4 linked regions of the Homo sapiens genome follow. The protein of the gene in region 4 purifies or fractionates together with the protein of the main gene of each other region. This does not show direct contact. Each region holds a gene or a part of one and is shown on either strand. Other genes may lie near its edges. The genes, in order: MTHFD2, EHMT1, RALGAPB and PARP3.

What was found.
Region 1: the proteins of PARP3 (region 4) and MTHFD2 purify together in Homo sapiens (affinity purification with mass spectrometry; one large-scale study listed by BioGRID and IntAct). This does not show direct contact.
Region 2: the proteins of PARP3 (region 4) and EHMT1 purify together in Homo sapiens (affinity purification with western blotting, with the first as the bait; one study listed by BioGRID). This does not show direct contact.
Region 3: the proteins of PARP3 (region 4) and RALGAPB purify together in Homo sapiens (affinity purification with mass spectrometry; one large-scale study listed by BioGRID and IntAct). This does not show direct contact.

Annotation. Positions count from the first base shown.
Region 1 is NC_000002.12:74,204,562-74,208,614, forward strand, and holds part of MTHFD2 (bifunctional methylenetetrahydrofolate dehydrogenase/cyclohydrolase, mitochondrial isoform A precursor), read left to right. Parts: intron 1-1,143; coding exon 1,144-1,328; intron 1,329-3,142; coding exon 3,143-3,265; intron 3,266-4,007; coding exon 4,008-4,053. UniProt on the Homo sapiens protein: Although its dehydrogenase activity is NAD-specific, it can also utilize NADP at a reduced efficiency.
Region 2 is NC_000009.12:137,831,453-137,834,316, reverse strand, and holds part of EHMT1 (histone-lysine N-methyltransferase EHMT1), read right to left. Parts: intron 1-2,864. UniProt on the Homo sapiens protein: Histone methyltransferase that specifically mono- and dimethylates 'Lys-9' of histone H3 (H3K9me1 and H3K9me2, respectively) in euchromatin.
Region 3 is NC_000020.11:38,545,558-38,549,610, forward strand, and holds part of RALGAPB (ral GTPase-activating protein subunit beta), read left to right. Parts: intron 1-685; coding exon 686-873; intron 874-3,131; coding exon 3,132-3,238; intron 3,239-4,053. UniProt on the Homo sapiens protein: Non-catalytic subunit of the heterodimeric RalGAP1 and RalGAP2 complexes which act as GTPase activators for the Ras-like small GTPases RALA and RALB.
Region 4 is NC_000003.12:51,944,972-51,949,529, reverse strand, and holds the end of PARP3 (protein mono-ADP-ribosyltransferase PARP3), read right to left. Parts: intron 4,533-4,558; coding exon 4,306-4,532; intron 4,036-4,305; coding exon 3,886-4,035; intron 3,678-3,885; coding exon 3,591-3,677; intron 3,365-3,590; coding exon 3,187-3,364; intron 1,791-3,186; coding exon 1,635-1,790; intron 1,220-1,634; coding exon 1,050-1,219; 3' UTR 663-1,049; downstream 1-662. UniProt on the Homo sapiens protein: Mono-ADP-ribosyltransferase that mediates mono-ADP-ribosylation of target proteins and plays a key role in the response to DNA damage. Mediates mono-ADP-ribosylation of glutamate, aspartate or lysine residues on target proteins.

The sequences.
Region 1 (4,053 bases), on a different chromosome or scaffold from region 4:
CACTGCTCTGTTGAGCTAAGCTTTTGCGCCAACTGGACCACTGGCCAGCCTAGAGATTGTTGCCCTTGGCGTCACATACTCACTCCTGGTCTGTCAGCTTTGGATGATATGGTGGGGTCCCTGGGAAGAGCACATTGCCAACTGTGAGAAGGAGCTTCCTCCAGTCCCCTGCCCTGCCCCTATTCTTACCAGGAAAGTCTTCCCCAGAAGGGACTGTGGGGAGTGGTGGTCATTTTGATGTTTGACCTGTCCAGTATGTTGTTTGTTTGTTTGTTTATTTTTGAGACGGAGTCTAGCTCTGTCACCGAGGCTGGAGTGCAGTGGCACAATCTCAGCTCACCGCAACCTCTGCCTCCTGGTTTCAAGTGATTCTCCTGCCTCAGCCACCTGAGTAGCTGGGATTACAGGAGCCCACCACTACGCCCAGCTAATTTTTGTATTTTTAGTAGAGACAGGGTTTCATGTGTTGGCCAGGCTGGTCTCGAACTCCTTACCTTGTGATCTGCCCTCCTCGGCCTCCCAAAGTGCTGGGATTACAAACGTGAGCCATCGTGCCCGGCCTATATTGTTTGTTTATTCAACTACAGAATATAATTTATCGATTTAAACCACCATAAAAATGAAGTCAGTTGACTGGGAAATGATTTGAAATACATGCCTGGCTGCTAACAACAGGGACAAAACACGAACTACAAATGGCATATAAGCAGATAAGAAAAACTATTTAACCTCATGGTGAGGGGTCAAACAATTGCAAATTAAAACTGTAAAACACTTAGTAATGATCAGGGCGCAGGGTGGTGTAGCAGTTAAGAGCCCAGACTGATGTGAGACTCAGCTTGACCAAGCGCTGTCAGTCACTTAAACTCCCTGAGCTTCAAATTAATGATAATAATGATTTCTATCAACTTTATCCCCCTCCATATGTAGCTGGATATATTCATTCATTTATTTATTTATTTAGCAGAGACAGGGTTTTGCCATGTTGCCCAGGCCAGTCTCAAACTCCTGGGCTCAAGCCATCCTCCTGCCCCGGCCTCCCGAAGTGCTGGGATTACAGGCATAAGCCACTACACCTGGCAGAGTTTTAGTTTTTATAAAAATTCAAGTTATTTGGTTTTGTGACTCTGTTGCCTTCTGCAGAAATGAAGCTGTTGTCATTTCTGGAAGGAAACTGGCCCAGCAGATCAAGCAGGAAGTGCGGCAGGAGGTAGAAGAGTGGGTGGCCTCAGGCAACAAACGGCCACACCTGAGTGTGATCCTGGTTGGCGAGAATCCTGCAAGTCACTCCTATGTCCTCAACAAAACCAGGGCAGCTGCAGTTGTGGGTATGTGTCCTTCTGAGACCTCGACTGCGGTTCAGTTGAGGTTTATATGAGGCAAAGTCCATTCTAATTTATGATTTCTTTTTTCTGATTAGGAAACCCAAGCAGAGGAGGCTAATGTGATTGAACTGTATCCCAAAACTTTGTCATAGGAAATCAGACTATATCTTTCGGGGTTTATACAGTAGGACAGGAGATACTGGTTGGTATTCTCTGTGGCTTCTGGAAAGAATATAAGCTACATTCTGTTCTTAGTCTTTATATTTGATAGGTGACCCTGAATGCATTTTACATTTGCTTTCCTTGAGCAATAATGGGTCTCCAGTGGAGGTGTTTGAGTGTTTGCAGCTTAAAGCCTTAGAGGCTTAGGGGGCATGATTGAGCAATACAGTATTAGGTGACCTCAGTGATGAGGTCAGGAACACAGTCGTAGATTTGAAGGAAATGACTCTGACTTCTGGGAAATAGCTTTCAAGTTCTTCACCGATTGGTTCTAAAGCCAAACATGCAGTTTAGAAGCAGTTCAGGTCTGGATGATGGGGTTTGTGTTCTAGGTCTCACGGTACCACAGATTACTGTGTCTCTGTGGACAAGAGGTGGGTGGGCAGGCTCAGATATGCCTCTGCCTGCCCATCTGTGGGCCTGTGGTCTGAGCAGCAGGTGGCCTTTCCTTCGAAGGGCTGTGAAACCACTCGCGTGGCTGGGTGGGGTTACTGGCCTGTAAGCCTGTGGTTTTCTCTGTTCTTTATTATTGAGGAGTGAGGCCTCCTGCTCTTTTAATTGAAAGCCTTTAGAAACCTCTAGATAATGGCAAGCCATGGCATTTTGTTTTGTTTTTTGAGACGGCATTTCGCTCTTGTTGCCCAGGCTGGAGTGCAACGGCGTGATCTCGGCTCTCCGCAACCTCCGCCTCCCGGGTTCAAGTAATTCTCCTGCCTCAGCCTACCGAGTAGCTGGGATTATAGGCATGGGCCACCATGCCTGGCGAATTTTGTATTTTTAGTAGAGATGGGGTTTCTCCATGTTGGTCAGGCTGGTGTCGAACTCCCGACCTTAGGTGATCCACCTGCCTCAGGTGATCTGCGCCTGCCTCAGCCTCCCAAAGTGCTGGGATTACAGGCGTGAGCCACTGTGCCTGGCCAAGCCATGGCATTTTAAGACATTGGGAGGTAGTGTGGTGCAGAAAAAAAGAACATGGATTTTGGAACCAGAAAGACTGGCTGTATTATTAGCTCGCTTATTTATTTATTTATTTATTTAGAGACGGAGTCTCGCTCTGTTGCGCAGGCTGGAATGCAGTGGTGCGATCTCAGCTCACTGCAACCCCCGCCTCCCAGGTTCAAGCGATTCTCCTGCCTCAGCCTCCCAAGTAGCTGGGACTACAGGCGCGTTCCACCAAGCCTGGCTAATTTTTTGTATTTTTAGTAGAGACGGGTTTTCACCGTGTTAGCCAGGATGGTCTCCATCTCCTGACCTCGTGATCCGCTGGCCTTGGCCTCCCAAAGTGCTGGGATTACAGGCGTGAGCTACTGTGCCTGGCCTAGCTCGCTTATTTTTAAACCTCTCTGAGCCTCAGTCTGTCTGTAAAATAAGGTTAATGAAGATTGCATAGAATGAGGTATACAGGATGTGTTAAGCTAGTATTCTCTGGTGTATATATTTGTGAAGTTACTTTTTTAGGTTCCTTGAGCTACTTCAGCTTTTAGGGATGAGTGTGATGATACAAAACCCGTATGGTAGCCAAGTATGGTAGGCAACATAGCAGTGCTCATTAAATGCCTCAAAAATTTTTTTAACCTCAAAATTTCTTATAATAGGAATCAACAGTGAGACAATTATGAAACCAGCTTCAATTTCAGAGGAAGAATTGTTGAATTTAATCAATAAACTGAATAATGATGATAATGTAGATGGCCTCCTTGTTCAGTTGCCTCTTCCAGGTGAGTTTTGGACTCCATTTAACATGATTGCTGCTGCTTCTGCTCCTTTCCCTCTCCCTCCCTCTCTCTCTCCCTCCCCATCCCCCTCCTCCTCCCTCTCCTTTCCTTGTCTCACTCTGTCACCCAGGCTAGAGTGCAATGGTACAATCATAGCTCATTGCATGCTCAAGCTCCTGGGTTCAAGGGATCCTCCTGCCTTAGCCTCCCAAATAGCTAGGACTATAGGCATGTCCACCATGCCCAGCTAATTTTTACATTTTTCCTAGAAATGAAAGTCTGTCTGTGTTGCCTGGGCTGGTCTTGGACTCTGTGCTTCCCAAAGTGCTGGGATTACAGGCATGAACTACCATGCCCTACCTAAAATGGTTTCTGAGGGGTAAAAAGGCCTTGTTACTTTATACACCTGGTTCTTCATGTGGATTTGGCTTAAAGGCAAAATAAACTCAAAAGAGTGAATATTTTATTAGAAATGGGACAGACCAACTCAGAATACCAATTACGCCTTGATTTAGTATTGTGGTCTTGATACAAAGGACAGTGGAGGGAAGCAGCTGTGATAGACGATATTGGCTTTGCTATTGGTGTTTGGCTTTGCTTATGCGAGTTCCTTCCATGCAGATGAAGTACATCTCAGAGGCAAGCTGTAGAAGAATAGATTTCCTTGCGAAGCAGATAAGCTGGAGTCAGGCAGTGCTGACTATGCGGTGGTGATTTAAGGCAACTGTGCCAATTTCTTTTTCAGAGCATATTGATGAGAGAAGGATCTGCAATGCTGTTTCTCCAGACAA
Region 2 (2,864 bases), on a different chromosome or scaffold from region 4:
TAGCAAGGCCCCGACACGCCGGCCTCGCCGGGTACGGCCATGCATGGCAGTCCCGGAGCCTGCAGTTGGGCGCAGGCCCGCCATGCAGGAGGGGCCTTCTCCAGTGACCTGTGGCGGCGGTGCGGAGCCTCCGCCAGCCTTCTCCTCGCTGTGTGGCCACCCACCCCGCACCCTGCCGTCCTCGCTGGGCCTCCGTCTGTGGTGGGGTGGGGGTGGTGCGGGCCGTTCCCTTGACGGCGTCCCCATGGGGCTTCCAGCGCGGTGGAATGTGGACAGCGCCATCCCACCCGAGGACCCATGGGGCTGTCTGGCACCAATAGGAGAAAGGAGGCCGGGGCTGCAAGAGCCCCGTGAGGCAGTGGCAGGGGCTGAGGGGGTCGGGAGGGATGGAGCTGGCATCCGGGACACACTGTCTTGGTGACGAGGAGGCGGAGCAGTCCCCAGAGGGTCTGGGAAGACTCAGTGGCGAATGGCACCAGGGAGGACCGTCAGGCGGAGGCTGCCCACAGAAAACGACTTCTGCTGCAGCCCTTCCGGGTGCTGATGTGACTGTGGAACACGAGGCCGAAGAGACTGAGGCGTCCTCCTCACCCTGGTGCCTTGGAGAGGAGCCCAGGATTCCGGGTGGCCACATGGCCCTGGGCCCTGGCCCCTGGCACTGGCCTGTGATGATGGATTCTGAATTGACCATAGAGAGGGGGACGAGGTGGGTGGGCCTGACCTAACCACGCAACCCCTTTAAAAGCAATTCTCTCTGGAGACCCAGGGCTTGGAGCTGCTGGGGCCTGGATGGAGGAGCTGCGTGGGAGTAAGGTAGGTGGTCCCGGCCGGCAGCTAGCAAGGAACCTAGACGCTGCCCACGCAACCACAGGGACCTGGGCTCAGCAGCACCCTGCCTGTGCAGCCCGAGGCCCGGCACGCCCAACCCCTGCTGCGCACACTGGGCCGAGTGGGTGGCCGCCATGGCGAGCTGCGGGTGGGTGGCGTGGTTTGTTACCCAGCGACGGGAAGAGGCAACACCACAGACGACAGCCAGGCAGACGGGGAAGGAGGCACCTGGGGCTTTCCAGGACCGAGTTCCGAGAGGGCGGGGCCTGCCGGCAGAGACACCTGGTCCACAACCTGCCCCAGCATGAACATTAACCAGAGAGCCAGGGACGCTCAGAGGTCAAGAGGTTAAAACCCAAACCAACAAGCGGGTAAAGGCGTGGACGAGAGCAGCTCTCCGTCAACCTTCACGGCGCGGGCAGTGACAAGACAGTAAACCAGGCGAGCACGGCCGCAGGACAGGACCAGCCACAGCCCCCAAAGCCAAAGGCGCGGGAAGCTGCCTCCTGGTTTACCCCAAAGAAACAGAGTTCAGAGTGGCTCACCTGGCGTGGACTTTGGCCTCTGCTTCGGGGTCTGATGGACTAAGAATCTATAGGCGACCCCTCCTCGTGCAGAATGCAATTCCGGAACTAGCAACGGCGCACACACGAAGGTCTTGATAAGCAGCAAAATGGAGAGTGAGGGGCTTCCGACTGGAGGGGCCAGGCCCAGCTTTCACCAGGGGCAGCTCGTCTGGCAGAGCACACAGCGCTGCTCCGAGCTTCTAAGATGGGTGGGGTGTCAAAGTCTGTGACACAAATCTCTGCCCGACCAGAACCAGATAAAGACAACAGTCCAGAGAAGGACGGCTGGAGTAAGGCAGATAGGCAACGTGGGAGGCGGGGCCTGCGGAGAGAGCCCAGCCAATCCTAGGACTGGAGAGAAGGCACAGGGGCCACATGGGTGGGTGGGGGGAGGGCCTGCGGAGGGAGCCCAGCCAATCCTAGGACTGGAGCGAGGTGCAGAGGCCGCGTGGGAGGCGGGGCCTGAGGGAGACCAGCCAATCCTAGGATGGGAGCAAAGTGCAGTGGCCACGTGGGAGGCGGGGCCTGTGGAGGGAGCCCAGCCAATTCTAGGACGGGAGCGAGGTGCAGAGGCCACGTGGAAGGCGGGGCCTGTGGAGGGAGCCCAGCCAATTCTAGGACGGGAGCGAGGTGCAGAGGCCACGTGGGAAGCGGGGCCTGAGGAGGGAGCCCAGCCAATCCTAGGACTGGAATGAAGGCACACAGGCCATGTAGGAGGTGGGGCCTGTGGAGGGAGCCTGGCCAATCCTAGGACTGGAGGGAAGGCACAGGGGCCACGTGGGGTTGGGGGGTTCTGCGGAGGGAGCCCAGCCAATCCTAGGACTGGGGCGAAGTGCAGCGGCCACGTAGGAGGCGGAGCCTGTGGAGGGAGCCCAGCCAATCCTAGGACTGGGGCGAAGTGCAGCGGCCACGTAGGAGGCGGAGCCTGTGGAGGGAGCCCAGCCAATCCTAGGACTGGGGCGAAGTGCAGCAGCCACGTAGGAGGCGGAGCCTGTGGAGGGAGCCCAGCCAATCCTAGGACTGAGGCGAAAGCACAGGGACCACTAGAGAGGCCGGGCCTGCAGAAGGGGCCCAGCCAATCGCACTAGGGAAACAAGGCCCACGCAGAAGAGAAACCAGAGTCCTCCCCACATGTTAACAGGAACAACTCAAGGGACCTGACGCTTGAAACACTGAGGAAACGAACACGTCCGAAAGAACACTCAACTGAGTCCAGCCTTGAGATGAACCAGACACTGGGCCAACAGACACGTATTTTCAAGGCAGCTCCTAAGGCTGTCCTCAATGAAGAACAAAGAAAGATTTCAAGGCATGAAAATATCAGAGAAATGAGAAGTCTCAGCGGAGAAACAGAAAAAGAATCCAACGGAAATTCTACATCGAAATTCACTGGCTGCTGAAGCCATCACTGGGTGGATGAACAGAATCTCAGAGATTTGCCTAATGACAGGTAAAGTCAAACAAATTGAC
Region 3 (4,053 bases), on a different chromosome or scaffold from region 4:
AATGGCCTCTCCTCTTTCACTCTAAGGTTTGAACCTAAAGCTCTCTAACAATGGAGAGCAACATTGCTCAACAGATTATTTTTCTTCCATTTCCTCTCCTCCTAAAACGAAGACTGTCTCAGAACTTCAGGGACCAGGAGAACTTGGCATTAAGTTCAGGCCTCTAATGGTTTGCAGAAAATAGGAGAAACACCAGGAGATCAATAATGAGAAAATATGGCTTTTAAACACCAGGAGATCAATAATGAGAAAATATGGCTTTGGTTTTCTAAAATGGGATAGAGACGGTTGTCACAAAGCATATGGAATATGAGCTTGCTGTGTTCCATGCAAGATTCTAAGATATCAGATAGGTTGCTGGTAAGGGAGTAGGTCACTAAGATCAAATTATACCAGCCTAACTGCATTTTCTGTTCCGGATATTGACCAGACTGGAAAGGCAGATTAAATGTCTCTGAAATAAAGACATACAGGTATGCATCTGGGGTAATGGGCTTTTTAATCTTGGAGGGGAGAGTCTGGACAGCATGCCATGGCATTCACCACAAGGAGTAAATCTGACCTGTCAAGAAGCATGGCTGTGGTCAATTAAAATTCAGAAGAGTGGAAGGGGACACATTGATGCACAAGGTAAACTGAAGATTTTGCTTTGGGAATTAACTGTTATCTTTTCCATTCTCCATAGCATTATGCAGTTGCTCGGCGCATTTCCTTCACCTAGTGGTCCTGCCTCTCCTTGTAGTCTTGTGAATGAGACCACTTTGATTAAATACTCCAGGCTGCCAACCATAAACAAGCATAGTTTCCGGTACTTTGTCTTGGATAACAGTGTCATCCTGGCAATGCTGGAACAACCTCTTGGAAATGAGCAGAGTAAGTTTATAGTACTTTGAGCCTTCTCTACTGCTTAATCAGTGTTACCAGTACCATGAAGCTGTTTCCAGGATCAGGGAAGGACAGCCTACAGATTCTAAGTAGGTCAGAAAGATTTCTAGCTGTGGGACAATAGCACCTGAAAAATAGGGGGGCAAAAAAATAGAATATACATATTACATAGAGTCTTTTAAAGGCTCTTGATGTGCATCTGAACTAGCTCTGTAGTTTTATAAAAGGTGGTGTTTTAGTGGGTTCCATTGTGTTGTTTATCTTTGTCACTTTTTCTTCCCCCTTGAACTTCGGATCCTGCCCCTCTGCTCCCCTCCCTCTCACTCCTCATGTTCTGTATCAATTGTTGGTGCTACCTACACAGGCTAGAAACTTGAGGAGTTATCTTTACCTGCCCCTTCCTGTTACTCACTTATATAATTAGTTTCTAAGTTTCCATCTTCCCAGGGACCCTTGAATTTTTCCTTTCCTCTGTATTTTCCCAATACATCCAAGTGCAGGTCCTTATTATTTCTCACCTAGATTATTACAGCTGTTTCCTACCTACTCTGATTCCCTCAACCCCTAAACCCCTTGCCAGTTCTAACATGTGTTTTCCCTACTTTCATCCTACTTGCTGCCACCATAGTATTCATCTTCAACCACAAATGACCATGCCAGTGCCCTACTGAAAATCCTTCAGTGATTTTCCATTAACACAACATGCACTGTTTTCCTCCTTTCCCTCCCCCTCAGTTATAAGCCATCTCACAATATGTGATTATCACTGCGACCCAAACTATCCACAAGTACATTTTTTTTTTCTGATGGTAATTGGCATCAGCCAGTATGTAAAAGAAGCATGTTCTCAGACCCTTATTGCTGGGAAGGGGAAGGAAAGTGAAGGTTACAGAATCTGTGGGTATAAAGTGACCCATGGAGTCACCTGGTATACAATTCCCTTAGTTATGAGTGAAAAAACTCAGGCTCACAGAGGGTATATGACTTGCCCAGGGTTACTTGGGACTAGAGCCCAGATTTTCTAAACCCTGTATTGTCCCTTTCTATTATTATTGTCGCACAGTGATAGGATTTGCTCAGTGATTAAAGATTTGCCTTCTTGCCTTTGTAAAGGTGAAGAGTTCTGTGCCAGTTTTGTTGATTATATGAGTAAGAGCTCATAAATCCATGAAGTGAAAGTGAGACATTTCCCTGCAGTTTGAGATGAAAAGAATACCATCATAAACTTCTGTTGTGTTGTGGTGAGATGCGGTGACATTAATGTGAAATGGAATGGTGCCTTTTATTATTGTCTAACTTCAGAACTGCTACTCCCAAGTCTTTTCTACAGGCATCTCATCCTTCTCTACCCTAGACATGGAGCTTGCTTGGCTTTCTTTCCTAGCCTGTGCCTGTTCATGATTCCTCCAGCCTCCTACTCCAAGCCATCTGCTGAGGAGTCTGCAAAATCCCAGTGTCCCCTTCAGGCTTCCTGGCCTTTTTCCAGCTTTTTAAAGACTCTCCTACTTTCATTCCAAATAATTTCATTGCATAGGAAGTGTACCAAAAATACAAGCAATTGGAATTGTATAGATTTACAAGGACATTTTAATAGTTTATTGTAATAATAAGAAATTATAGAGAAGTTTGAAGGCGTTTGACTCCCATATCTGAGACGGAAGAATAAAAAAAAGGATCTGGGTCACTCGGGAAGTCCATCCTGAGTGTTTTTTTTAACACCCCCATCATGTCCCTGAACTTCTGCTGAGATGGAACAGTGCCTGCCTGTGGTGGGCAGTGGTACACAAAGGCATGGGCAGATATAACACTAACACTGCAAACACCCAGTCTGTCTTTCTACACTTAAGTTGTTCCCAACATTGGGAGGTTAAGAGTATTTACTAGGACAGTGTTTCCCACAAATGTGTACATGTACCATTGGAGGTATGTGAGATGATCTTAGTTGATACATTAGTGAACATTATTTTATGTATTTTTAAGCATGTGCTTTAAAATTATATAATTAGTACATGCCAAAATTCATGATTTTCCATTTAGAGATGCACAAGAGTGGTTGATACAAAGTAATAGTACTTACAGTACACGGGTATGGGTACGGCAGAAACCACAGAAGTGGTACACAAAAGATCAAAGCTTAGGAAACACTGTTGGGCCTTTGATTATGAGAAGCTCTGCAGTTGATAACAAGTTTATTTTAAATGGTTGTTGTCTGAAATTAAAACTTTTATATACATATTTTATTCTAGATGATTTTTTCCCCTCTGTCACTGTGCTGGTCCGGGGAATGTCTGGAAGACTTGCTTGGGCACAACAGCTTTGTCTTTTACCCAGAGGAGCAAAAGCAAATCAGAAGGTATTCATCAGAAGTTACAGGGAAGTGTGTGTGTGTTTTGTAATTTAAAGGTTAGGTAACATTCCAACAGAAGACACAGATCAAATAAATATTTTTGATCCCTAGCCAGATTCTCAGTCAGTGGGTTCATATCAGAATCATCTAGGAACCTAGAATTCCAGATGTACTCAATTACTCTTTAAAGACATGTTCAAGGCAGGTGTCTTTTCAAAAAGCTTTCCAGGTGATTCTGACATCTACTTAGGAGTAATTGCTGTTGTGGACAATGGCCCCAGTTTTTTCCATGTAATTTTACAAATGTAATAAAAGTCAGATATATACCATACGTGAAAAAAATTTGGTGGGACTTTTGATTTGTCCGCAACAGGACTTAGTTTGAAATTGTTTTATATGATTTGTTCTTATATAATAATTGGTAATATATTGTATAAATTTTATTTTTTTTATAAAGAGTCAGGGTCTTGTTCTGTTGCCCAGACTGGAGTGCAGTGGTGTAATCATAGCTCACTGCAGCCTCAAGCTCCTGGGCTCCAGTGATCCTCTTGCCTCATCCTCCTGAGTAGCTGAGACTGTAGGCACATGCCATGGCACCCAGCTCATTTTTAAAATTTTTTGTAGAGATAGGGTCTTGCTTTGTTGCCCAGGCTGATCCCAAACTTCTGTCTTCAAGTGATCTTCCCACCTCAGCTTCCCAAAGTGTTAGGATTACAGATGTGAGCTGTCACACCCAGCCTAATTAAAAAAAAAAAAAAAAATATATATATATATACACACACACACACATACATATACACACACACACACACATATGTATG
Region 4 (4,558 bases):
TTGAAGGCTCAATTAGAGGAAGCAGGTTGTTGCAGTGATGGACCAGGAGGGGCAAGGAGTATGTGCATGATCCACATCAACCCATGTGAGCGCTCGCTCCCTGGAGTGTGGCTGGAGGCCCAGGCCCAGCACAGTTGTGGCACAGACAGGCAGAGGCTGGGGCAAGAGAATACCATGTTTAGTAAAGCTGCTTGCACATGCCTGCAGTTTAGCCTACCTTGGTGACCACATGGCTCCAACATGCAGTCCAGGCCAGGATGGACGGCCTGGGTGGATGTGGGATCCAAGCCACTCTCAGCTGTGCCCCTTGAGTAAGCTGCTGCATCTGTGTCCCTGTAATACGCCCGTACCACACCCATCACTTTAGGAGGCAAGACTCTGGGGCCACAGACACATCAAGGCTAACAGGGATTGGAGGGAAGGGGGATCGATGTCTGGGACACAGGGGAGCCTGGCAAGAAGGGGTGATATGGATCCAGAAACCCCACTACTGGGTATACATCAAAGGGAAATGAAATCAGTATGTTCAAGAGACGTCTGCTTTCCCAGTTCACTGCAGCACTGTTCACAATAGCCAAGATATGGAAGCAGCTTGGTGTCCACTGATAGATGAACGGATAGAGGAAATGTGGTGCATATACATAACAGAGTACCATTCAGCCTTAAAAAAGGAGGAAATCTTGTCATTTATGAAAACATGGGTGAACCCGGTGCACATTATGCTGAGTGAAATAAGCCAGGCACAGAAAGACAAACACTGCATGATCTCACTTACATGTGGAACCTATAAAAGCTGCCCTTATACAAGTAAAGAGTCAAATGCTGGTTACCATGGGCTGGGAGGAGAGGGACTGGGCAGATGTGTCAAAGAATACAAAATTTCAGTTAGGAGGCATAAGTTCAGGGATCTTGTACAGCATGGTGACTATAGTTAACAACAACGTATTGTATTCTTGAAAAAAAGGAGTGATATAGGGGTACCAGAGATGGGCAGGATGATTGAAGATCACAGTCCAGCCTTGCAGGACCCCGGGGGACAGGGCGGGCACTCAGAGGTGGACCTCCAGCAGGTAGCGCAGGCGACACTGGCTCTCCTGGTAGATGAGGTACTCGCTCTGGGAGAATGTGGAGCTGCTGAACTCTGGGCAGGGCACAGGCTGGCCCTGGGGCACCACCACTTGCTGGCCATCCAGCTCCAACTCAGTGTCCTGGGTCGGATCTGCAGGGCACAGCAAGGGCCAGGGTGGCCCAGGGGTCACTGGTCCCAGGCCTTACGAGTAAGTCCTGCCCCCTATGCTCTCCATGTCTGTCACAGGGCACGCCTGCTCATTTCCACCTTGCCCACCTCCAAACCACTGCAGGGGCTGGGGCTTCTGCCTGGGGTGTCCTCCCCGACTTCTCTCTGGGAAACTTGTACTAATCCTTCAATGCTCAGTCAACAACTCCTCTTTTTGAAGCCCTCCGGGATGCCCAGGAATGATGTGTTGAACCAGTGGATGTTTGTCAAATGACAAACTGAGTGACGACAGGGAAGCTTCTTTTTGTCCCTCTTCACAGCCCCCTCCCTGAAAATGTCCCAGCCCCTATCTCGGCCCCACCTCTCTCCTTGGGCTGTACAGCTTCTGAGGACTCACCAGGCTCGGTGTGGCCTCGGGCAATGACACTGTCGAAGCCAGGAGGTGGGCTCTTCAAGCTGGGGTTGTCCGTGTTGATATGGTGCTCTCTGCCCAGGGCCACCTCACCCAGGAACATGTAGCCGACATGGTGGGCCCCACACTTCATGCCAATAACTGCAAGACACAGGGAGGCACCGGTGGGCAGCTCAGCCTGCCTCCTGCTGACCTGTGGGGCCCCTCTCTGCTGCGATGTTATTCCTTCTGGCTTTGCTGCTCCAGCAAGAAAAGGCTCACTCTCCCCCAACCGTCACTCCCTCCTTGTCCCGGCCTGCTCCCTCCCACCTCACTGTGCTCCCTATGGCCAGGCATCTGTACCCTCTGCTGTCCTCACCAAGGTCAGCAATGGCCTCCCAGTGACCAAACCCGTGGCAGGGGCTTTTCTCCCTGGCCTGCTCTGCTGACTTTGCTCCTGACATCATCAGCCCCTACCTGGGACTTCCTCGCGCTGGCTCTCCTAAGCCCTCCACCCCGCCACTCTTTCCTAAGCCCCTCTGCCCTCCTGGTGGACCCCTTGCTCTTGGTGACCTCAGGCATCCTAGAACTTCAGCCCCATCTGTTCTGGGATGAATCCTTGGTCCTTGCTCTCTTGGCCAGCTGGGTGGTGGCCTCCAATGATGGGGACAGCCTGGGTGGAGGAGCTGGTCTGGGGGGGTCATTTTGGTGAGGACACTCCTGGCCAGAAACTCAGAAGTCACTGGAGACAGCCTTGACCCTTTCCCACACGCTCCCCATCCCATCTCCTACATGCCCCTCTCATGGGCTCCCTCCCCTGCACTTCCCAGCCCTTGGGCCAGGCACCCATCACATCCAGCCTGGATAAGAGGATGGCCTCTCTGCAGCCTCTGGCTGCTGCCCCCCTCTCCACAGCTGTAGCCACTGGGATCCTGCTACAGACAAGTCCAGCTGGGCTAACCATCACTCTCTGGATAAAGCCTCCTCGATCGTTCTGGGCCCCTAGCCCACCCTGCCCCCGGCTAGGCATTGCTCTGAGCTCCAGTATCAGGAAGTGTTTGGAAGCCCTGACCTGCCACATCCTCACATCCTCCCAGCCTCTCTGCCTATCCCCTTGCCTTGACGTCTCCTCTTTTTTATTTTTATTTTTTCAGATGGAGTCTGGCTCTGTCACACAGGCTGGAGTGTGATCATAGCTCATGGCAGCCTTAAACTTGTGGGCTCAAGCGTTCCTCCTGCCTCAGCCTCCAGAGTAGATGGAACTACAGGTGTATGCCACCACACCTGGCTCAAAGGCTCCCCTTTTACCCCCTCCCAGGTCTGGTTGGTGCACCCATCCTATCTGTATTGCCTCCCCCAGGAAGCCATCCCTGACCATCAGACACTTTCTCTAAGACCCCCCGCCACCAAAGCCCAGGACAGCCCACTGAGCACTGTAGTCATTAACCATTAAAGGATTCCTCTCTTGGATTCACCATGAATTTCCAGTGGCCAAGGACTGGGCCCAATCCATCTTAGTGCCAACCCTCCCAGGGCTTGGCCCAGAGGGGCACCTCACCATATCCAGCTGACTTGCTGTTCTCTGAGGCAAAGTAGATGCCCTTGCCAACACGCCCACCAGAATGTGGCATGATGCGGAGCCCACTAGTGAGGATGGCGGCCACCACGGCCATGTTGGTGCCATGCCACAGCAGCTTCCGATTACCCAGTTTGGAGTGGGCCTGGAATCTGTCTTCCTGAGTGGAGAGGAAGTGAGAAATGGGAGTGATGCCACCCGAGCACTCAGTCGCCTTGCCCTGCTGCTTGTGACCAAGGCCTAGTGTCCCTCTGCTTACTCACGCGCACTCATGGCCGGCAGAAACTGACCAGAGCTGCTAAACGATTTGCTAAGGGACCGATTAGCCAAGGACATCTTCCTAAGGCACAGTGGTGATGGGGGAGAGGTGGGGGAACCTCCCTCACCTCCCCTTCTTGGTTTACTTTCCAGATGTGTTGAAGTGTAGGGCACCTGTGGTTGCTGCCAGTCTGTTCTAAGTAGGTCTGTATCACCTGTGGGGAGAGCAGAAGCTGGTTGCCAGGGTGGGAGGCTCAGGAGCTAATCCCCCATTTTTCTTCCCCCAGTCCCAAGCCCTCCTCAGGCCCTGGAGACACAGGAAGAGAAGGCTGAGGGCGAGTATTCCTCTGGGCACCTCGAGGGCAGGTGGGCAGAGGGACAGTGCCCACTGATAGCCTGGCCCCTCTGTGGGGCCCAACTCACCTTGTACTCAGGTGCTCCAGAGTCTAGCAGCTGCAGCTGGCACTTGAGAAGCTGGTAGTCTCGGTCCAGGGGGTGTGGCACCTCCTCCACCGTCTTCTCCTGCTCAGAGACTGCCTGCAGGGCCTGGGCCAGCTCGATGTCCGCCAGCACCTAGGATGATGGGCCCTGGCAGTTTGTCTTCCCACTTGACCTCTGGCCTCCCCTCTCCTCTCTCACATGACTGGTATTGTAGCCACCCCACCTGTGTGTCCCACCTGTCCCTCCCCACCCTATCTGTCTGCCCAGCCTTCCCCACCCGTCTGTCAGCCTGCCCAGGCAGTCCATCCTTCTGGGCCTTCTTGGCCACCTGCCCTTCATCTCGCTCGCCTAGGCTGTCTGTTCAGTGCCCCACTGCCTGCCCGCACCCCTGCCAGCCCTCACCAGCAGCATGTCCTTCTTGGCCTGCAGAAGCTCAGGGGAATTGATGGGCGGGGGCTGGCTGTGGCCGAAGTTGTGCGGGATGACGGTGTAAAAGTGTGAGGACAGCTCCTCCAGGCTTTGGCCACCATCCGTGGGGCCTTTCAGGGCCTCCTCCAGCGCCTCCAAGGCCTCGAAACCCCGTGCAATCTGTTGCTTGCTCAGCTTTCCCAGGGGCATCTTCTTCACATCTAGGGGGACAGGGGAGTGGGGAGAC